Linked DNA regions of Homo sapiens. The protein of the gene in region 1 interacts with the protein of each later gene in a pairwise test. Each region holds a gene or a part of one and is shown on either strand. Other genes may lie near its edges.

The links.
Region 2: the proteins of SHISA6 (region 1) and FBLIM1 interact in binary tests that used the Homo sapiens proteins (3 or more experiments, as listed by UniProt).
Region 3: the proteins of SHISA6 (region 1) and TRPV2 interact in a protein complementation assay, tested with the Homo sapiens proteins (one study listed by IntAct).

What each region holds. Positions count from the first base shown.
Region 1 is NC_000017.11:11,244,213-11,251,871, forward strand, and holds part of SHISA6 (protein shisa-6 isoform 1 precursor), read left to right. Parts: intron 1-7,659. UniProt on the Homo sapiens protein: Involved in maintenance of high-frequency synaptic transmission at hippocampal CA3-CA1 synapses.
Region 2 is NC_000001.11:15,754,174-15,762,161, forward strand, and holds the start of FBLIM1 (filamin-binding LIM protein 1), read left to right. Parts: upstream 1-4,621; 5' UTR 4,622-4,675; intron 4,676-7,988. UniProt on the Homo sapiens protein: Serves as an anchoring site for cell-ECM adhesion proteins and filamin-containing actin filaments. Is implicated in cell shape modulation (spreading) and motility.
Region 3 is NC_000017.11:16,410,803-16,418,570, forward strand, and holds the start of TRPV2 (transient receptor potential cation channel subfamily V member 2), read left to right. Parts: upstream 1-4,768; 5' UTR 4,769-5,031; intron 5,032-6,759; 5' UTR 6,760-6,866; coding exon 6,867-7,066; intron 7,067-7,768. UniProt on the Homo sapiens protein: Calcium-permeable, non-selective cation channel with an outward rectification. Seems to be regulated, at least in part, by IGF1, PDGF and neuropeptide head activator. May transduce physical stimuli in mast cells.

The DNA.
Region 1 (7,659 bases):
CAAGTTCACCACCTGATTTTATTCAGTTCACAGCCTCTCTTCCAGCAGCTGCAGTCTTGCCTGATCAGTGCTTTGGAAACCATCATATCCGTGCCTGTTGGGTAGGGGACAATGCCTGTCTGTGTGTGGTAGGGGGACAGGGCATGGGGGATCCATCTACGACACTCCATGAATGACCTTGGGCAGGTCAGGGAAACTTATTTTTCAGTTCTGGGTAACTGAAGCACAATGTCCCAACTCAGCTTCTTGCTTCCGGGGCACGTCAGGGTGAGTGTGCAAGTTGATCTCAGACTCCTGGGGGTGAGTGTGACTACACCACTCTTCTCACTTTGCTCACACCTCAGAGACCACCGTTTGCCATTCTGGGGAGTATTTTTGTGTAGACTGTCTTGTTGGGCAATCAAGGTAGGGAAAAGGAGGGAGTGATAGAGACAGAGAAATATTCACACCGTAATGAGTTTTCCTTAGGGAAAGTGGGGAGGAGAAAGAATGTACACTCTCGAGAGGTCAAGAGAGGAAGCGGATGTGCATGCAGTTACATATTCCTTGAAATAGCTCAGCAAAGATGTTTCCTTTCTGAACAAGAAAGACAAACCGGTTTCAGTGTGTGCTTCCCCCTGAAGATGATAGGTGGGCAGACAGGGGCTGAGTCTGAGGGAGTTTCAGTGAGAACAGCCTCATTGGAGAGGGACATTTATGGGAGTGTGAGCAGGGGTGAAGGGAACGGATGGGCCATCTGCATCTGCCTTAGTGCTCCCAGGCTGGACAGCCCTCCGCCTGCCCATGCACACACATTCCTTAGGGTAGGACTTCCTTTCATCTCTCTACTCCTTCAGGGAGGAAGATATTTCATCATTTCCAGAAGTGATTAGACCTTGCTATCGTGTTTCTGAGTGAGAAATCAGTGTCTGTGGGGGAAACCGTCAGCTCTCTTGTGATTCTAATAGATGAGTACCAAGTCCGACTCAGCTAGCTGGACTCCGTGGAGGAGGAAGAGATGGGCACAGGATTGAAAGGCAGAGCTGGGTGCTGGATGTGGCCAGAGAGCCCCAGGGCAGCCGTGCCTGCCTTTCCCAACCGGAAGCCCAATTCCTACCAGGATCTCCACTTCACTTTTCCCTTCTTCCAAACTGCCCGGGCTAAGGCTCAAGCTGCAGCCATCCACAGATTTTGCTATTTCCTGACTGACTTCCGCACAGCTCCCCTGAGGGGCTTTTTGTTCTGGGAGGGCCGCCAAGGGCATGGGCTGCACCCAGGAAACCGCCTGGGAGCCTGGGTCCTTTTTGACATTCATTTTTGTGCTAGCTGTCTCACATCCAAACCTGTTCCTTCCTCCTCACCCTGAGTTGATTCATTAGTGTCTTGGAGATGAGAATCATTCTGAGGGAGGAACTGTGTGGCTTTTTTTAATGGCTAATTAACAGATGGGTCAGGAAGCTATTAGGATGCTGGAGACGCAGTTGGTGAAATCAGAGCTGCCCTGGGTCCTTCCACTGCCTGCACAGGAGCAGAGGGGATCAAAGAATGTGGGCAGGGTGGGGGGGGTGGATATCTAGGTGGGTGGGAAGAAAAATCCAGGTGGATATCAACAGGAAAAAGTATTAGGAGGTGACCCCTTCATCTTGGGTTGGTTCTCTTGCTTATTTCTAGAAGAAGTCAAGGGAATACTTTGTTCTACTCTTTCTCCCTCCAGAAATTAATTAGAAACTCAAAGAGCTCTGTTATTTCCTCACAGGCCACATAACTGCAGTGGCAGGGCCCCTTCGCTGGCTGATTTAGTGAGTTCTCTTCCTAGGCTCCTGGGCAACAAATTGTCAAGTCACTGCGTTTTTTGAAGCACTGTGAGCTCACTATAATGAATTGATCTAAATAGAGAGTCGACTTATTTTTCTACTTCAAATATAGAAGGAAAGAAACAAAAAAGCATCTTGCCTTGGACTGAAAGTTTTAGCCTTGCCTTTATTTCTTTTTTCTTTGAGTTAAAAAAAAAATGCTTCGCCGGGTGCGGTGGCTCACGCCTGTAATCCCAGCACTTTGGGAGGCCAGAGTGGGTGGATCATTAGGTCAGGAGATTGAGACCATCCTGGCTAACACGGTGAAATCCCGTCTCTACGAAAAACACAAAAAGTTAGCCGGGTGTGGTGGCATGCGCCTGTAGTCCCAGCTACTCGGGAGGCTGAGGCAGGAGAATCCCTTGAACCTGGGAAGCAGAGGTTGTAGTGAGCCAAGATCGCACCACTGCACTCCAACCTGGGGGCCAGAGCGAGACTCAGTCTCAAAAAATAAAAAGAAAAAATAAATGCTTGTAGGGAAAGAGGAAAATTGTGGAAGAACTGGAGAAGTCTTATGGAGGAAGGGCTAGGGGAAGGATGCTGGGAAGGCAGAAAGAAGCAAAAATAGCGAAAGGAGGAAAGCAATCCAGTGAGAGGTTGATTATTCCCACTGAAGGGACAAAGTGACGTTGCCCTGCCTTCATGTGCCACAGGCTTGGTTTGTCCTGACTCTTGCAGACACACGCAGACATTCACTTAACAAATGAGCCCTGCTCACCTTCCCTGGGCAAGATGTGTTTCATACTACACCATATAAGCTTATAAGACACATGTTGCCTTTGATATATGAGGTTAGCAGGGTTCCTTCTTGCTTTAGCAGGGCAACCATGCAAATACTTTTCAAATTCCCTACACTGTGCAATTCTCCTTGGTCACATTGCTCACTGTCTTCATGTCCCTTCCTGCCCCTCCCCAAGCTCAGAAGGCCTTCACACCCATCCCTTTCTCCCCTCTTACCCTACCCGAGGTGGGGAGCACATTCATTTCTGGGAATCGACTGCTAAGGTACCAAGTTTACCCACTGTTCTAGGCTGCCAAGACACAGCTAGAGAAAAAAGCCTAATTCATTGTATTCAACTGGTTTTAATGAGAGATCGGATTGACCGTGCAGTGGATTCAAATCAATTGTGCAGGAAACAGTGGTTAAGACAGCTGAGAAAGTGATCTGATTGAAAGAGGCTAATTCACTAGCTCCAGACGGACAGTCCTACGGATCCGGAATAAAAGGGAACCACAACAAAAGAAGCTTCATGCTTCCAGTTCCATCGCCTGATTTTCCAGGGGCTGGCAGATTGTATTTAGGTCTTCCCTTTCTAGTTCAATTTCTATAGTCTGCAAGAATTCCTACCACATGCTGGAACTGCCACCGTGCTCCTGGCTATGGGAGGTCACCACCCTCCTTCCCTGCTGCCCTCTCCCCATTCAAACACCTGTACCATCCATTTTTGAAATTATGGTGAATTTTGTCTTACAATTTTGCTCATAGCCCTTGATGATATATCACCTCTGGAACCACAAAATGATGGTTTCAATTTACAAGCATGTAAGATGTCTCAGATTGGTTGGTGGTGGTGGGAGGGGTTGTGCTTGGGTGGAATATATGAGGATTTAGACTAAGTACGTTTTGTAGTTTCTGTTGTGATTTTTCCCCTCTTTTCTTTACCTTGGGAAACTCCACCCCATTATTTCTTCCTGAGTTACGTTTATGACCTCACCTCTTTGGCGTCTTTCTTTTTTTTTTTTTTTTTGAGATGGAGTCTTGCTTGGTGGCCCAAGCTGGAGTGCAGTGGCACAATGTCTGCTCACTGCAACTTCCGCCTCCCTGGTTTGAGCTATTCTCCTGCCTCAGCCTCCCAAGTAGCTAGGACTACAGGCGCCCGCCACCACACCTGGCTAATTTTTTGTATTTTTAGTAGAGACAGCGTTTCACCATGTTAGCCAGAATGGTCTCGATCTCCTGACCTCATGCTCTGCCCACCTCTGCCTCCCAAAGTGCTGGGATTACAGGTGTGAGACACGGAGCCTGGCCTCTAGTGTCTTTCTTTGCAGATATTGTAGAGAGATAAGAGGCCTGGGTACAAGGGTTACCAGTGAATCCTCAGAGGGTCTCAGTCCCTTGAACTCAACCCTTGAGCAAGCTTAATTTTAAAACAATTCAGGATACATTGCTAACTCTATTTTTTTTAATCTCTCGAAGTGAAACCAGAACTTCTGAAAAAGCAGGGTAGTACATTCTATTCTTTTGTCATCTATTACAGAATTATAACGTTTTCATTGCAGGCAATTCATTTAATCTCGTTACCTAGTTTTACAAGTGAGGCAACTGAAATTCAGAGAGGCTAGGTCACAGTGCCAAGGAGCCCAGCTAGTGGGTGGGTGAGCTTGGAGGTTAAGCCAGGGCGCCTGTGTTCTAGCGCTCAGACTCATCTCATTCAATGAAAATATATTCTGCTTCTTTACTCTTTGCACGTTCCTTGGTTAGTCATCACCAAATAACTTTGGGATCCTTAGAGATGTGAGTTACAGCCTTCTCCTTTCTCTTTCTTTCCTACGTTTCTGTACCCCTCCTGGTTCACTGTTTCCACTGAATGTCTCCACTAAAATGATTTCTGTCGATCTTCCCCGCTCCTTTTGCAGTTTTTTCACGTTCCTTTCTTAAGGGCAATAACCTAATCTAAGCATAATCCTTTTATAAGGTCTGAGTAATGCGGACTATTGAAGAAGGAAAATAACAGCACAACCAAAGAGTTGTGGACTGGGGCAAAAAGTCACCGAATGAAACTGTGGGCAGAAATCTGTCATTAAAAATTCAGGGCCAGGCACAGTGGCTCACGCCTGTAATCCCAGCACTTTGGGAGGCCGAGGCGGGCAGATCACGAGGTCAGGAGATCGAGACCATCCCGGCTAACACGGTGAAACCTCGTCTCTACTAAAAATACAAAAAATTAGCCGGGCTTGGTGGCGGCGCCTGTAGTCCCAGCTACTTGGGAGACTGAGGCAGGAGAATGGCGTGAACCTGGGAGGTGGAGCTTGCAGTGAGCCGAGATCGCGCCACTGCACTCCAGCCTGGGCAACAGAGCGAGACTCCGTCTCAAAAAAAAAAAAAAAAAAAAAATTCAGACTGTGAATGCTTTCTCTCTCTCTCCCAGAGATGAGTGGAAATGCTGAATGCTGAGACCTACCGGATCAATGCAGTTCAGCTCTGTGAGAGGCCAGAGACCTCCCGCCATCCAGTGGCCGTGTGTGTGTGTGTGCGCGTGCGTGTGTGTGGACGTGTGTGTGCGTGTGTATATGTGTGTGTGATTTCAGGGTTATCTTCTGGGTTGGCCCCCTGCATAGAATATAGCTCTGCAAGCCACGGAAGCTCATTCATAGACGCCAGTTTTGCCCTTTCTCAGCTCTGGGCCCAGATACTGCAGGCTAATCAAGCTGGAAATCTGGGCTTAATCATTATGTGAAAATAACCTCTGTGGCATGCAGTTTGGGGGTTTTCCCTGTAATGTGCTTGATACTTCCTTTGAAAGAACCTGGTTGTACATACCTTAATGTGTCACCCTTCCAAGCAGTCACCTTGGGAGGCCGCATGCTGATTTTTCTGCAGAAAATGTTTCCACGGTCCCTCTCTTGAAAGTACATTGAGAGCCCATGGCATGTCATTTTGACTTTATATAAGGGTAACATATTTTAATTTTCCTAGGGTTGATTTGATTCTTGTAAGCAATGGTAAGTCATGGGGCTGAGTCTGATGAATGAGATAGGTGATCAGAAATCAAGAGTGCCTCCAGTAATGAGACTTGCTCTCCTAGGAGCCGTGTCAGCTGTCTCTGAAGGCAGGAGCCCAGAAGAGGCATTTCAGAAAGGAGTGAATGGCAGCTCTGCACAGGAGTGCCTGGCAATCCACGATGATCATTTTGAAGAGGACACTCCTCATGAGGAACGACAATTATTGGCCTTAAGAAAATCAGTTTTATGCTTTATCCGTGTGTCAGGCAGGTGGTGGAGGTCCTAAGAGAGAGGGAGAAAAAGGAGTTGAGTCTGCAGCAAGCATTTCACATGGAACTGCTCAGAAAGGGTGAAAAAGTGCACGTCCCATATTTCTGCATGAGATAGTAGACAGTTAGCTTAATTTAGCTTCCTAGTTTGATACTGAGGGTAAAAGGACCCAGTTTTACGGGATGTATGCAGTGAGGCTCGGGGTCAGAGCCAGAGTGTTCACTGTGCCTTCCCTTCTTTCTATCCCAGGGCTGTCGCCTCTGTACTTCTGCATTCAGACGGGGTCACCAGCTGGGCCAGACTGCCTTAGATGATGTAGAAATATTTGCAAGCCCAGGAAGATAAGGCTGCCAGTGAGCACTGCTGATCAATTCCTAATGTGCATTTATCACCACTCGCTCCACCCCCAAATGTCCATTCAGTGGATGAATTGATCACCGAAATGGAGCGAGGGTGGGGCAGGCTGAGTGTAAAGGCAGGTGACAAGGGTTACCAGACTCAGTGTCTGCAGGCAGGGAAGCCATGGCTGTGCTACCTGGGTAGAATGGCATTCCTTCATCTCAGTCAGGATTTAGGGGTTGGTAAAGGGCTGGGCATTTGTACTGCCCCCATGCATAGGCCGGGGCAGAGCCTCTGGTCCTGATGACCCTCTAAAGGCCATTGTTGGGCATTCTGGAGGAGTCAGTCTTGCTGTGAGCCTGGGGAGTCCCTCTTAACTCTGCTCACGTGTCAGGACAGTGGGAGCTCTGTGTCCCAGGAGCTTACACAACCCCATCACTCATGCAAGCCCACAAGCCAGAGTTGGAGAGAACTGGAGATCTCGGTGAGATGAAGACTCAAGGAAGTGGAGAGGATGGTAGAGAGATACTCATAAGAGTGCCGGGTCTCGAGGGCTTACTCTGTACCAGCATCCAGCTTGCACCTAACCTGCATTATCTCGCTGCATCCTCCCATCATCCCGTCTGAGTGTAGGGGCCCATGTTGTAGATGAGGAAACCGATTCAGAGAGGCTTAGTAACTTGCCCAAGGTCACACAGCTAGTACATTGCTGGTGCCCTTCTCTCTCTCAAGTCCAGTAGAACAGTTGGGTCTCACCTTCCTGAATGTAATGGAGTCAGTGATACTCAGATTACTTAAGAAAGCAAAGACCTACCTTCCCATGCCCTGGGACTGGTTATCATAGTGAAAGACTGGGAAGATAAGTGACCTACCTATGAGGGCTCTGTGGAACCAGAACGGCGGCCCCCATTTAGATTGCATGCAGGCAGCAAGATCCTCAGGGCAGTGAAAGAGCTCTCTTTCAGGAATATATGATATTGGCTGAGGATAGCAAAGGCAATGCAAAGAAAATATTAAACAAAACAAAACACCCTGATTTTAATTGAGAAAAAAAAAAAACTTGACAATATTGAAAGAACCCCTGGGCAATTCTGCATGAGTCAGTGGAGAGCAGTGACGGGAGCTTGGGTGAGGGGCACAGGAGAGAAAAGAGGCGATTTGGGAGGCGGTATGGACCTAGGGATATTTCTAGTTTTAATTACTGAGATGTAGAGCTCACAAACAGCTCCATTTATCACAACTCTCCCACCCTGCCCCATGTCTAACATCTAGCATCGTGCATGCAAGACACAGCACTTTAGCCAGCTTGCTTCTGCTGTTCCCTGTTCTGGTTTTATTCCTTCCCTGTTTGTACCCTGGTGGCTGTGCTTCGTAATGACTCACGCTTTCCCTGTGATTCTCTGTTTCCGGTTCTCTCAAGTCCCCTGTCCTGAGGGGCACGTGGAAAGGAAGGAATCCTGGGACACTCTTAATAGCCTGTGTTTTACTCTCCAGC
Region 2 (7,988 bases), on another chromosome or scaffold:
GAGTCTTGCTCTGTTGTCTAGGCTGGAGTGTAGTGGCACGATCTTGGCTCACTGCAACCTCTGCCTCCAGGGTTCAAGCAATTCTCTTGCCTCAGCCTCCCGAGTAGCTGGGATTACAGGCGCCCGCCACCACGCAGAGCTATTTTTTTTTTTTTTTTGAGACAGAGTTTTGCTCTTGTCACCCAGGCTGGAGTGCAGTGGTGCGATCTCAGCTCACTGCAACCTCTGCCTCCCAGGTTCAAGCAATTCTCCTGCCTTAGCCTGCTGAGTACCCGGGATTACAGGCACCTGCCACCACGCCCGGCTAATTTTTGTATTTTTAGTAGAGACAGGGTTTTGCCATGTTGGCCAGGCTGGTCTCAAATTCCTGAACTCAAATGATCCGCCCGCCTCGGCCTCCCAAAGTGCTGTGATTATAGGTGTGAGCCACTGCACCCAGCCTCATGACTGACTATTTATTTAGAACAAGGAAAAAAAGCGCAACAAATAACTGCAGAAATACAATTTTAACTGGTTTAAGAAAAAGTAAGGACCGGGCACGGTGGCTCATGCCTGTAATCCCAGCACTTTGGGAGGCCAAGGCAGGCAGATCACGAGGTCAGGAGATCAAGACCATCCTGGCTAACACAGTGAAACCCCGTCTCTACTAAAAAAAAAATACAAAAAATTAGCCGGGCATGGTGGCGTGCGCCTGTAGTCCCAGCTGCTGGGGAGGCTGAGGCAGGAGAATGGCGTGAACCTGGGAGGCAGAGGTTGCAGTGAGCCGAGATCGTGCCACTGTACTCCAGCCTGGGTGACAGAGCAAAACTCTGTCTCAAAAAACAAAAAAAAAAAAAAAAAAAAAAAAGAAAGAAAGAAAGAAAAGAAAAAAGAAAAAGTAAGGGAGCCCATAGTTGTACTCCAGTCTGGGCGACAGAGCAAGACTGTCTCAAAAGAATAAAAAATAAAAAGTAAGGGAAAAAAATGCATTGACTCTGGAGGTCTGGTAGTAGGATTGCAGGTATGGCTGGATCCAGCAGCTGATGAAATCAGTTATCTTTCTTTCCTATCTCTTTGCTCTGCTGTCCTCTGTGGTGGTCCAAGTGGGGGGCAAAAGTGGTGTCAAGCTTGTATTCTGCCAGCCAACAAGCCCAGAGAGCTGATCTTAGAACTAACAGCCACTATGATTGGCTGGACATGGGTCATGTATACACCAGGCACTGAGAGTGGAAGAGAGGTTCCCCAAACAGAAACTGAGTGCTGTTATCAGAATCAGGGAAAGTAGTGCTGGCTATCAGGAGCCATGGATGTTCCTTGGATTCTCTTGCAGGACAAAGTCACGTCCTTCCCTTCCCTTCAGAACTTTGTCCCTCTTACTAAAACTTCTATCCTTCATGTGGTAGGGAGAGCAAAGGAACTCATCTCTGAACACCTACTGAGCATCAGGTATTTTTACCCACATTTACCCCACCAGATTCTTGCTATGAAGCCACAAGGGACAAACCTGGGTTGGCAACCCCTCGGTTGCAAGAGGAAACTGAGGCCCAGAGAGAAGTGATTTGCCCAAGGCTGGCAAGTGGCAGAGCTGGAATCACTCCCAGATACTGATGTTACTCACAGCTGTATCTGTGTCCCCATCTGACCCGGCCACCATGGGGGAGCTCCCTTTTCTCTATGCTGCTCCTCTCCCCGCCCTGCCTAGCACAGGGCCCCACACACAGCAGCGCCCAGGAAATAAGCATTGGACTGACCTGACTCCAAGCAGGTAGGGTGGAAGATGGAGGATGGAGGAAGGAGCTGGGAGGCCCAAGGGGCTTCTGAGGCTGTCTGCCAAGCTGACCTCTGACCTTTAAAGCCCATGTTTTCCCTTCTGCCCCCTTTCCCTGGGAATATTCGTCCCTATTCTCACACTGGCTCCTCCCCATCTCAGCTTAACCCTCACCTCCTCAGAGAGGATTTCCCCCCACACCCCACACCCCACACCCACCCCACCCCCTTTTGTCTCAGACCCCTTGTCCATTCCTTCATAGCACCTTTTACTATTGGTTATTGTTATGTTAATTTGCTTTATGGTTTGCTCTACCCAATCTCCCTGTAAGGACTGTGGGGACAAGGACTGATCATGTCTGATTTGATCCCGTCGGCTCCTTGACTCATGCATTGCACACAGTAGGTGCCCGGTCAGTGTCTGCTCAGTCAAAGCTCTCCACTGTGGAGGTGCCACCCCCGCCCCGGCAAGCAGACTTGCCCTCAAACCTCTCTTCCACCCCTTCCCTGCCACTCAGGGTCTCAGCTGCCACCATCCTAATAGAAGATTGAGCCCCTTGCCTGCTGGAGCCATCTAAGGGAGAAGAAAGCCGTTGTGAGCCTGGCAGGGAGGGCGGAGGGCAGCAGAGCCTCTGAGCTGGCAGACAAAGGGCGTGTGTTCTCATCCAGCGCACTTCCTGGGTTTCCGTTGCAGGAAGTTTGGCACCTGCCGATCGGTGACATCGACACCCGAGCTGCTGCGGGCCAGGACGAATCCCTCCATCCGGGAGCAGTGGTGGCGGTGGAACAGGTGGCCTGGGGTGCTGGAGGCAGGTAAGCAGAGGCAGTTGAACCCCTCATTCCCCTTGGACTGTCCCAGAGCAAATGTGGGAAGCCTGGGTCCTAGACTAAGTCAGTGTGACCTTGAACAAGGCCCCAAATCAACTCTTCGTTGCCTCACTATCCCACCTGGGGGTGCAACAGGTGGTTCAGGGGCTGTCATGGAGGTGAGGGCAGGCAGCTCCACTTTTATCTCTTAAATAAACTTCTGGGTCACTAAGCATTTGCAAAGGGGTTCTACAGCCAAAAGCGCCTGAAAACCCCCAGATCGCACCTTCCTCCTTTGAGTCCTTCCCGTCTCTGTCGTTCAGAGGGTATGGGGAAGTCTCCTCCAAAGGGTGCTGCAAAGCTGGAGTTTTGGGGGGCAGGGGCAGGATATCACTGCCAAGCCAGGAATGAGCCGAGCAGGGACTCAGACAGCCTTGAGTCCCAGCCTCGCCCTGCTGCACAGAACTCTCAGCACCTCCAAGCCCCAGCTTCCGATTCTGTAAAGGATGGCACTGGTACCTGTTCTTGAGACTAGCAGAGCTGTGTGCCCAGGGACACAGCGGCTCTGGTTTGAATTTGGCTCTGCCATTTGCCCCTAGTGTGGCCTTGAGCCTCTCGGGGCCTCAGTGTCCTTGACCGTGAACAGGAATCATCAGCCCTGGTGCTCATGGCTCTTGTGGGATTAGGATGGGGATGAGGATGGGTACCAGCACCTAGAAAGCCCCTATCAATGGCAGCTCCTGGGACTGCTGCTGTTACTGCAGCTTGGCTGAGAGGATCAAATGGGAAAAGGGGCGACAAGAGGGATGGGAGGGGCGATGATCAGTGGGTGAGGGCGGAGGCAGCCTCCTCTGACCCTCATAAACCAGCCTCCCTCAGAAACAGCCCCAGAGCCACCCTGGAGGGGTGACTGTAGCTGAGGGGTTGCAGGACGGGCCAGATCCTGTCTGGCCACCCCGCAGATGGCGCTGGGTCCAGCGCTCCTCAAGCCTCAGCCACTGTGGCTTTAATCAAAAGAACAATCTGTCTGCCTCTGAATCAGACCCAGATTCCTTTCCCCACAATGTCCCTGAGGCCTCCAGGGACCCAGGCAGTCCATCCCGGCCCCATCCCGGGCCCCAGAGTCCAGGCTCTGCCTCCCCTCCCGCTCCCGTCCTAATTGCTCCAGCTGGGAGGGGGAGGGTCACTGGATGTGGAGGGAGGGGTTCAGCCACAGGGCCAGCCGGGCCCTGCCTTCCAGAGCTCCTGGAGCGGCCTGTCCCCCGGGACACCGGGACCCACCTGCAGAGGGCTTACCGCTCAGGAGAGCAGAACAAGGTGACCTGCTCCACTGGGGGTCTCCGAGACCCCCACCCTCAGGAACACTCCCGGAAAAAGCCCCCAACCCAGCATATATTAACCACTATTAATCACAGTCCTGGCTGTAACTGTCACCTTTTATCCTCAGGCCAACCTGGAGAGGTAGGCAGTGGCTACCTCCACTTTACAGATGAAGACACTGAGGCTCAGGAGGTGGCGTGACTGCTCCGGGTCTCACGCTTAGTAAACGGCCGCAGAACCCTGGTCGGTTTGACGCAAGACCCTGGCGGATCCCAGAGCCAAAGTAAGCGCTCACCTCCGCCGGACAGGGTAGGTGGGGTTGCCAACCCAGGAGAGCGAGGGAAGGGGGACGGCAGGGACCACTCGGGGTCCATGAAGAACGCGAGGGGATGGGCAGCGGGGAGGGAAGGAAACCCACCCCGACTCCCCATTCTCCTACCCCCACTCCCCATCCCTCCCATTCCCCCATCGCCCCCATCCCCATTCCCCCCCATTCCCACCCCCTGGCCTGTGCCAAGGGGGAGGGGAGGCGTCGTCCAGGGAACAAAGGGAGGGGGAAGGGGCGGCGCGGGGCGCGGCCGGGCAGGTTGGGGGGCAGGTAGGGGCCGCTTCCGCGGGGCGGGAATCCCGCGCCCCCTCCCCCCGAGCCTCACCTTTTATGGTAAAGCGGCGCGGGGCGGCGGGGCGGAGGGAGCCGAGGGGGCGGGGAGGGCGGACGGGCGGAGGGGACGGGAGGCCCAGCGGCTCCGGGCTCCGCTGGCTCGGGCGTCGGATCGGAGCCGCCGGGGCGCGGGCGGCCCAGGTAAGCGGGCCGGGTGGGTGGGGGTCGCGTCCCTCCGTCCCTGTCCCCGGTGCACACAGGTGACAGCGCCGGCAGTGCTCGGCCGGAGCCTGCTCGGTCGCCAGCCGGGACCCCCGGCGCGGCGCCCCTGGAGGGGCCTGCGGGTGGGGGGTGCGGTCCTCACGCCCTTTGCGTCCCAGTCTCTTGGTCTCTCTCCCCGGAGTCGGGGAGTCGGCAGGTCCGGGGCGAGGGCTCAGTGAGGCCGGCGGAGGGCCGAGTCCCAGCCCGGGAGCGGGAGCCGGGGACCCGGCGCGCAGGGCGGAAGCTCCCGCACAAAAGGCCGGAGTCCCGCACATGGATCGAATTAAAGCTCCGGCGGCGCCCAGCGGTGACCCCGGCGGCCGCCCTGCTCGGCTGCCTGCGGAGGGTCCCGCGTTTCCGGAGCCCGGGGGCGCTCCAGGCCCCTTTTCCTAGCCAGGGTCAGGCAAGGGGAGGGACGGGTCCCGGGGCTGCTCCTCTCTGGGCCTCACGCGCCCGTCGGGGGCTGAGAAGGTGTGGAGATGGGCGATACCCAGGTGTGTGCCCTGGGATGATCTTGGCGTCGGCCCCTACCCCTCACCTCCCACCCAAGCCTGAGGACCCCGGGGAGAGGCTGGGGCCGCGCCCAGATTCCTGCTCTTAATGACGCTGTAGGTTCTGTCCGGGTCCTGGAGGCACCCCCAGCCGAGCCCAGCCCCCGGGCTGCTTCTCCCTCTCAGCTGCTGCCTAACCAGCTGTCCTTCTCTTTGCACCTTCCAAGGGCCTAGACCCTGAGTCTTCTTTCCTTATATATCCTCTCAGCCGCCCTAGGGACACACTCATTCTCACTTTATGAAAAAACGAGGCCAGAGAGTTTCTGTGACCTATTCGGGGTCACCCCGCAGGAAAGAAGTGGGGCCGCGTGTGAACCCAGCTCTCTACCTCCTCTGTTTCCCTGGGGTGGGAAAGAGGTTGAGGGAACCCCTCCCCTAAGTTGCAGGGTGGGAGGGGTTGGGGCACACCCCGCCACTTCTGCCTAAATTTAATTCCGTACCCAAAGGTAGACTGCTTTATCCGGTCATTAAAGAACAAAGCTGGCCGGGAGCGGTGGCTCACGCCTGTAATCCCAGCACTTTGGGAGGCCGAGGCGGGCGGATTACCTGAAGTCAGGAGTTGGAGACCAGCCTGGCCAACGTGGTGAAACCCCGTCTCTACTAAAAATACAAAAATTAGCCGGGTGTGGTGGCGCGCGCCTGTAATCCCAGCTATTCGGCGGCTGAGGCACGAGAATCGCTTGAACCCAGGAGGCGGAGGTTGCAGTGAGCCGAGATCGCACCACTGCGCAGCCTGGGCCACAGAATGAGACTCTGTCTCAAAATAAATAAATAAATAACAAAGCTTAAGCCGGGTGTAGTGGCTCAAGCCTGTAATCCCAGCACTCTGGGAGGCCGAGGAGGGCGGATCACTTGAGGTCAGGAGTTTGAGACCAGCCTGGTCAACATGGTGAAACCCTGTCTCTACCAAAAATACAAAAATTAGCCAGGGGTGGTGGCGTGTGCCTGTGGTCCCAGCTACTCAGGAGGCTGAGGCAGGACAATCGCTTGAACCTGGGAGGTGGAGGTTTCAGTGAGCTGAGATTGCGCCACTGCACTCCAGCCTCGGCCACAGAGCAAGATTCTGTCTCAGAAAAAAAAAAAAAAAAAAAAAGAACAGAGCTTAGAGGTGGCCCCAGAGGTTTTTTTGTTTTTTTTTTTCTTTGTAGGGAACAAGGAGTAGGAAGGAGGACTGTGGGGGTGACCCCCCCTGAGCTGCACATTCTCTGCCCCAAGGCTGCAGCCTCTAGCTGGTCTGGGTGGCTGGCTGGATCCCTGCCTCCTTCCTTCCTTTGGACAGGAAATGACTTTCCTTCCCTTTGTTCCCACTTTTCTCCACTTATCTAACTGGATCTGTGATTCGCTCTCTGGGGGAGGAAGAGTGGGGGCGGAGGGTCCCCTGGGCACAGCTGACTGGGAGATGGCCCCAGGGAACTTACACACAGCCTGCTCCCAGCTGAATCGGTGGCAGTGGGACGGGAGGGAAGCCGGGGCTCCCTCTCCCGATGGGATTGACAGGGCTTTGAAACTCCCCAGCTTAGACCCCCTGGGGCCTGAGGTCCCTGCAGTCACTGCTTGGGAGGTATAGGGGCTGCCCAGCTGTGAACATCTGGCCTCAGTGCTGGACATTTTCCGAGAAGCCAGGCAGATCCGACTTCCCGGAGGAGTGTAGGAAGGGTCAGGGCTGGGTGGGAGGAGGCAGAGGGCCATCCCGAAGCCCCACAGCAGCCCCTGGGGACCAGCCCGGAACATGCCGACCACAAGATTTCTGGTCTGGATTGGGCCATTGTAGAGTGAGAACAGGCCTGGGAACTTGGGCGACTTTGTGCCACCCAAGGAAGGAAAAGCGTGTCTGGGGACACACTTTTGGATGATGTTCCATTAGAATTCCGAGTGCCATGGATGGCCTGGGAAAGTCACTTAACCTCTTGGAACCTCACAGGGTCCATCTGCAAAGTGGGGGCAGGATGGGCATTTCTTGCAGCTAGATTGAGAGGCTGGTGGGTTTTGAGGCACATATAGTACCTGGCACAGGGCCTGGCACGAAACAAGTGCCTTATCAGCAAGTCGTTTGGTATTTCTTTAAATCTCACATGTACTCTGAACATTGTTGACAAAAATAGATTCTTAAACTTATAACAAAGTGTAAAACTAAAGCCCGTGACAGCCAGCCTAAGCATACGTACTTCCAGACATCATTTCCAAACCCAGAAGCAAAAGACAAGTACTTTAAAATAAGTTTTGAAGCTCTTTCCTAATATATTGGTTTCTTCCTCAGAATAGATATTTTATTGTCAGACTGAGCTATGTATTTTAGCCAAACAACTTAAGGGAATTTAGGAGCACGTGTTATTGTTTTTATTATCATCCATCAGTCGCTGTGAACCCAAAGTGGCCAGTGCACTTTGAGATAAGGAGGGAAGCCTGAAGAGCGAGATAGAAAAGGGGACATTTTTAGCCCTGGGCACAGGCATTGGGTGCCTGCTGAGGACTGATGTGCTCACTGGACTCCCAGCTTTCCCACCCATGGCCCCACCTCAGCCTTGGCCACAGGGACTACTGTCAGCAGGAACTACCTGAGAGATGGGAAATAATGTCCTTTTCCTGACATCAGGGTATCAGGGTGCCACCATGCTCTCTGATTTATGCTTTTCTTTTTTTTTTTTTCGAGACAGAGTTTCACTCTGTCACCTCGGCTGGAGTGCAGTGGCACAATCTCAGCT
Region 3 (7,768 bases), 5.2 Mb from region 1:
TCACGCAGATTACTTCTTGACCTTTCAGCTAAAATCAAGTGTAGTATCTGTTCTTATCAGTTTGACGTGTCCCTTATCTGAGGATGTAATAAAAATAAAAATAAATAAATGGAATCATGCAGTGTGTGATTTTTGTGACTGACTTCTTTCATTTAACCTAATTTTTCAAGTTTCTTCCATGCTATAGTGTACATCAGTACTTAATTTCTCTTTTTGTGGCCAAATAATATTCCATTAAATGGATATGCCACATTTTATGTATCCATTCGTCATCAGTTAATCATCATTTGGGGTGTTTCTATTTGGTTATTATGAATAATGCTGCTGTAAACATTCATGTACAAGTGTGTATGGACATATGTTTCCATTTCTTTGAGTACATACCTAGGAGTGGAATTGCTGGGTCGTATGGTAACTATGTTTATTTTATTTTTTTTTTTTTGAGACAGAGTCTCACTCTGTTGCCCAGGCTGGAGTGCAGCGGTGGCACTATCTCGGCTCACTGCAAGCTCCGCCTCCCAGGTTTATGCTATTCTCCCGCCTCAGCCTCCCAAGTAGCTGGGACTACAGGCGCCCGCCACCACGCCCGGCTAATTTTTTTTTGTATTTTTAGTAGAAACAGGGTTTCACCATGTTAGCCAGGATGGTCTCGATCTCCTGACCTCGTGATCCACCCGCCTTGGCCTCCCAAAATGTTGGGATTACAGGTGTGAGCCACCGCGCCTGGCCCTTTTTTTTTTTTTTTTTTTTGAGACAGCCTTGCTCTGTTGTCCAGGCTGCAGTGCAATGGCAGGATCTCAGCTCACTGCAACCTCCACCATCCAGGTTCAAGCAATTCTCCTGCCTCAGCCTCCCCAGTAGCTGGGATTATAGGCATGTGCCACCATGCCCTGCTAATTTTTTTTTTTTTTTTTTTTTTTGAGACAGACTCTTGCTCTGTCGCCCAGGCTGGAGTGCAATGGGGCGATCTCAGCTCACTGCAACCTCTGCCTCCCGGGTTCAAGTGATTCTCCTTCCTCAGCCTCTGGAGTAACTGGGATTACAGGCGTCCACCACCATGCCTGGCTAATTTTTGCATTTTTAGTAGAAACAAGGTTTTGCCATGTTGGCCAGGCTGCTCTCGAACTCCTGACCTCAGGTGATGCGCCTGCCTCGGCTGCCCAAAGTGCTGGGATTACAGGCCTGAGCCACCGCACCCGGCCTAATTTTTTCATTTTTGATAGAGGAGGGTTTTCGCCATGTTGGCCAGGCTGGTCTCAAATGCCTGACCTCAGATGATCCACTCACCTCGGCCTCCCAACATGCTGGGATTACAGGAGTGAACCACCGCGCCCAGCTCTCTATGTTTAATCTTTTGAGGAGCAGCCGGACTGTTTTCCAAAGTAGTTGCACCATTTTACAATCTCCCAGGAGTGTAGGACAGGTCCAATTTCTCCACACCCTTGCCAACACTTTGTTGTTACATGTCTTTTTATAATAGCTATGTTAGTAGTGTGAAGTGGGACCACATTGTGCTTTTGATTTGCCTTTCCCTGATGGCTACAATCCAAGGCCTTTTTGTAACCAGAATTTGCAATTAAGGTTATCTGTCTACCCAATTGTCATTTTCACCGGATGTGGTGATGGCTCTGGAGGACTTCAGGTTGTCCACTTTTCACTTTTTTCTCAACAGCACAGCAGTGCCCTCTGCACTATGATTATAAGCCATCCTGTCATTCAAAGCCTTCTTGAGCACCACTTGGATGCCAGGCACTGTGCTGGTTGCTGGGGATACAGCAACAAAGCAAGATCTCACCCCTTGGAAAGTATGGTGGTAAGCCTGTGGCCCTGGACTTGAATCCTTGCTTTCTCACCTCCCAGCCTTGTGGCCTTGGCCTTACCCATGCTCAGTTTTCTTGTCTGTGAAATAAGGTTGCTCTGGGAGTTACATGTTGAGCGCTTAGCACAGTGTCTGGTGCATAGTGAGTGCTCCGTAAGTATTTTTTATTGTTAAAGGTGAAGGCGGGGACAGTGGCTCATGCCTGTAATCTCAGCACTTTGGGAGGCGGAGGTGGCCGGATCACTTGAGGTCAGGAGTTCGAGACCAGCCTGGCCAACATGGTGAAACCCTGTCTCTACTAAAAATACAAAAGTTAGCCGGGTGTCGTGGCGCGTGCCTGTAATCCTAGCTACTGGGGAGGCTGAGGCAGGAGAATCACTTGAATCTGGGAGGTGGAGGTTGCAGTGAGCCAAGATCATGCCACTGCGCTCCAGCCTGGGCAACAGAATGAGACTCCGTCTCAAAAAAAAAAAAAAAGTGAAGCCAGACAATATAATAAATATTACAGTAACGGATAATGAGATGTGGGGGAAGTACAGAGTGTCATGGGAGCACATAGTGGCGATCCCCAGCCCAGTCCAGGGTCTAGGAAAGGCTATCTAAAGGAAGTGATGCTTAAATTGAGAGATGATGGATGAGCAGGAGTTGGCTAGATCAGATCAAGAGCAGTGTGTGTGTGTGTGTGTGTGTGTGTGTGTGTTCCTGGCAGGTGGAACAGAAGAGGCATGGCATACTGGGGAGACTGAAATGTGTTCAGAATGTCTAGAGCAGTGCTGTCTAATAGAACTCTATGTTTATGAAAAATGTCTCAGGCTGGCACGGTGGCTCACGCCTGTAATCCCAGCACTTTGGGAGGCTGAGGTGGGCGGAGCTCCTGAGGTCGGGAGTTTGAGACCAGCCTGACCAACATAGAGAAACCCCGTCTCTACTAAAAATACAAAATTAGCCAGACATGGTGGTGCATGCCTGTAATCACAGCTACTCAGGAGGCTGAGGCAGGAGAATCACTTGAACCTAGGAGGCGGAGGTTGCGGCGAGCTGAGATCGTGCCATTACACTCCAGCCTGGGCAACAAGAATGAAACTCCGTCTCAGAAAAAAAAAAAAAAAAGAAAGAAAAAAAGAAAAATTTGTCATCTGTGTGCTATCCGATATGGTAGCCACTAGCCACATGTGCCAACTGAGCATTTAAAATGTGGCTAATGGGACAGCAGAACTGAATGTTTACTGTTATTTTATTATGTATTTATTTTTGAGACAGAGTTTCCCTCTTGTTGTCCAGGCTGGAGTGCAATGGCACAATCTTGGCTCACTGCAAGCTCTGCCTCCCAGGTTTAAGCGATTCTCCTGCCTCAGCCTCCCAAGTAGCTGGGATTACAGGCACGTGCCACTACGCCTGGCTATTTTTTTTTATTTTTAGGAGAAATGGGGTTTTGCCATATTGGCCAGGCTGGTCTCGAATTCCTCACCTCAAGTGATCCACCTACCTTGGCTTCCCAAAGTGCTGGGATTACAGGTATGAGCCACCGCGCCTGGACTAATTTTGTATTTTTAGTAGAGATGGGGTTTCACTATGTTGGTCAGGCAGGTCTGGAACTCCTGACCTCAGGTGATCCACCCACCTCAGCTTCCCAAAGTGCTGGGATTACAAGCGTGAGGCCTATTATAATTGATTTAAATCTAAACAGTCATTGTGGCTAGTGACTATCTTATTGGATGGCGCAGGCCTAGAGTGTAATGTGCATGACAGGGTTGCCATGAGTGACGGATAGCGATGGAGAAGGGCATCTGGACTTTGAGGGCTCATGGTATGGAGTTTGCATTTTATTCCAAGCACCATGGGTGAGGTTTTGTGATTAAGTCAAGGCGTTAGGTGACCTGGTTTTCTTTTTTTTTCTTTTTTGACACAGAGTCTCGCTCTGTTGTCCAGGCTGGTGTGCAGTGGCACAATCTCAGCTCACTGCAACTTCCGCCTCCCAGGTTCAAGCGATTCTCCTGCGTCAGCCTCCCAAGTAGCTGAGATTACAGGTGCCCACCACCATATCCAGCTAATATTTGTATTTTTAGTAGAGATGGGGTTTTGCCATGTTAGCCAGGCTGGTCTTGAACTCCTGACCTCAAGTGATCCATGCACCTCGGCCTCCCAAAGTGCTGGGATTACAGGTGTGAGCCACTGCGCCCGGCCCTGGTTCCCATTTTTAAAAGGTCACTTCAGTTGCTATAAGGAGAAATGGATTATGAGTGTGGGGCAAGAATGAAGCAGGGAGACCAGTTTGGAGGTGGCTGCAGTTGCCCAGGGGAGCAGTGATAGTGGCTTGGACCACTCAGAAAGACAAATTTTGGAGGAAGAGCTGATGCCAGGTTTTGGGAGTGAGGGAGAGAGATTCCTAGGGCTACTTCGGTGGTGGTTGGGTCCCCAAGCTCCAAGACTGAGTCCAGACCAGGGCCCCGTTGGTGGTGAGGTCTGATTTTAGCAGTGCGTGCCCACCTCCTTGTCTCCACCTGCTGGCTGGTGCTTGGAGCACCTTTAGGGGAACTTTAGCCATCAGAGTCCTGGGGTCAGGAGGCTGGGAGAAGGTCCTGGGAGGTGGGAAAGTCCCCCAACTGCTGGGTGGATGGGTGGGTGGGACTGTGTTCCCAGGGGCATCTGCTGGGCTGAGCCTCTCCCTGGGGGCTGTCCACATCAGCTTTCTCCCCTGCCATGGGTCAACTCAGGCCCATTTATGGGCCACACGGCTGCTTGGAAGGCATGTGGTGGAGAAGGGGAGGAGATAGCTGTCAGTGGACTTGGGGAAGAATCCCCCATCCATGGCAGCTTCCATGGGTGGCAAGTCCCCAGCATCCAAGGGCTGCCTCTGAGTGTCACCCACCCCCACCTGAGACCTTAGTGGCTAGAAGGGGGAGGGGTGGGGGTGGAGCCTGATTCGCAGCAGGGTGTGTCCAGATGGTCAGTCTCTGGTGGCTAGCCTGTCCTGACAGGGGAGAGTTAAGCTCCCGTTCTCCACCGTGCCGGCTGGCCAGGTGGGCTGAGGGTGACCGAGAGACCAGAACCTGCTTGCTGGAGCTTAGTGCTCAGAGCTGGGGAGGGAGGTTCCGCCGCTCCTCTGCTGTCAGCGCCGGCAGCCCCTCCCGGCTTCACTTCCTCCCGCAGCCCCTGCTACTGAGAAGCTCCGGGATCCCAGCAGCCGCCACGCCCTGGCCTCAGCCTGCGGGGTAAGTCGGTGGGCAATGCTGGGGACGTTGGAGGGGGCCGGGTCTCCAAGCCTGACAGTGAATGATGGGGTGGGGAAGGCCTAGTGGGCTCCTGGCTTCTACAGCCTGGAGCCAGGGTCTGTGTGGGGCTCCAGCACCCTCTCCCTGGACCTCCACACCCCTTCCTCTGCTGCCAGGGTGGGTGAGGGTCCCAGGAGGTGGGGTGGGGGCTGGACAGACAACTGTTGCTGCTGGGGCTTGGGAGTCTAGGGCTGGAGGAATGGGCCAGGGTTTGGTTGGGGACACAGATGGGCTAAACGGTATGAAACGGAAAGAGCACCCTTCTGCCCCAGTGTGTGTAGAAAGGGTGGTGGGTCACATCTGCAAACTGAGGCAGCCAGGCAGCTCCCCACCTCCCATGTTTCCATGGGAAAATACCCCACCCGGGTCCCCAGGGCCTGGTCCCAGCCTACCCTCTCCACTTCCCTCTGCTGGTGCCGCTCCTCTCTGCTCTCTGCCCCCTGCCCCCTGCCCCCTTCTCCACCCTTCTGTCTCCTTACCACTCTTTGACTCCTTCTTCTTTCTGATCCTGCTCACTGGGCCCATGAGGGTTCCCCAACCCTGACCGAGGCCCCACCCTTGCCAAGTGATGGAGGCTGTGGTTTCAGTTTTCCTGTGAGGGTGAGATTGTGCTGTTTGCTGAGCTTCCTAGGCCAGCCTAGGGCCTGAGGCAGCGTGGTGGAGAGAGCCTGGGCCACAGGCTAGGGGCCTCCCTCCCTTCGTGAAGCCCCCAGAGGCCCTGAGGCACACAAAGGTAGTATTCGATGCCTTCAGAGCTGAATCAGACTGAAAATATAGACAGACCCTGAAAGGCTTTGAAAACGGAAGAGGAACGTCATGGTAGACGCATGGTGTCAGATCCGGCTCTGCCAACAACTGGCGACCTTGGGAAAGCCACTCCCCCTTTCTAAGCCTTAGTAGTCTTGGCAGCAAAATGAAGGGTTTGATAGTCTAGTGGTTTTCCCAGTTATTTCTTCTTAGAGCTCCCCTTCTTTGGCGAGGGGTTGAGTGACTGGCCCCATCCCAGTCATCGCACTTTTATCTGTTGGAATATTGGCTGCCAGGCAAGACGTTGTGTAAAGAAAGGGTTGTGCTGTTAATGTAAATGGTAACAGGGGTTGTGACCCCTCAGATTCCAGGAAGTCCCAGAGGAAAAGTCGGGGACAGTCATGGCTCTTCCTGGGGGACAACATCAAAAGGGTGGCCCTATTGGTTCCCTGTTCCTCACCCCACAGGCCTCCCTCCCTCTCCTCACCCCTGCTGCTCATCCCTCCTGGCCCACTTCCCCTGCATTGGGGCTGGGCTCCCACACAGTGGGTGGACCTACTTGCACTTGGCATTTTTGCCATTAGAAGTAATGAGAAGTAATGGCAAAAACCGCAATTTTTTTTTTTTTTTTTTTTGAGACAGAGTCTTGCTCTGTTGCCCAGGCTGGAGTGCAGTGGTGCCATCTTAGCTTCCGGGTTTAAGCAATTCTCCTGCCTCACCCTCCCTAGTAGCTGGGATTACAGGCACAAGCCACCATGCCCAGCTAATTTTTGTATTTTTTTTAGTGGAGATGGGGTTTCACCATGTTGGTCAGGCTGGTCTCTAACAGCTGACCAGCCAGCCTCAGCCTCCCAAAGTGCTGGGATTACACCCAGCCACCACGCCCAGCCTTTTGCACTAACCTAATACCTCCTTTTGCAGGCTCCAGTCAGGCCAACACCGACGCGCAGCTGGGAGGAAGACAGGACCCTTGACATCTCCATCTGCACAGAGGTCCTGGCTGGACCGAGCAGCCTCCTCCTCCTAGGATGACCTCACCCTCCAGCTCTCCAGTTTTCAGGTTGGAGACATTAGATGGAGGCCAAGAAGATGGCTCTGAGGCGGACAGAGGAAAGCTGGATTTTGGGAGCGGGCTGCCTCCCATGGAGTCACAGTTCCAGGGCGAGGACCGGAAATTCGCCCCTCAGATAAGAGTCAACCTCAACTACCGAAAGGGAACAGGTGCCAGGTGAGACAGCAAGTGGGGGCAGGGCAAAGGGGGCCCCCTGCCCAGCTCCAGCAGAGCACCCGGAGTGAGACTCATTGACTAGTCCAGCACCAGTGCCCCTTCCCACAGCCTGTGGAGTCCTCAGTCTGGCCCTGGTGGCTCCTGGGCCCGACAGGCTGCCTCTGCTCTGCCATCTGGCATTGCTCTTTCCAGAGGCTTCCCCATTCTTGGCCTTCTGCCTTCTGAGGTCATGTTCTTCATGAGATACATTCTTGAGCTCTAAGTCCTCAACTGACCCTCAAATCCCCCTGTTCATGCCAACTCCCACCCCTGTCATGGTCCCTGTTGGGGAAGGCAGCAGGATCCACACTCCATCCAGTGAGAATCAAGGACATCTGGAAATGTCCCAGGCTCTCCTCAGTTCTGCAAGACTGAGCCTGTCACTCAGGGGACGTGAACTGTGGGATTGGGGATGACAGGCTTCTGCTTGGAGTCATCTGCACTTTGATTTTCCTGTGGTCTTTCCACCAATTCAGACTGTGTGAGCACCACATTCCTGAGAGTCCCACTTCCAGTCCTGCTGCATTTGGCACCCCCTACTTCCCTGCCCGGGGGCGGGGCCTGCCCAGTGAGGCTGGAGAATCCTCATGGGCCAGGCTAGACTCTGCCACAGAAGCCCCTTCTTCCCTTCTCATGCTTGAGGTACAGCCACCAGCTTTGGCC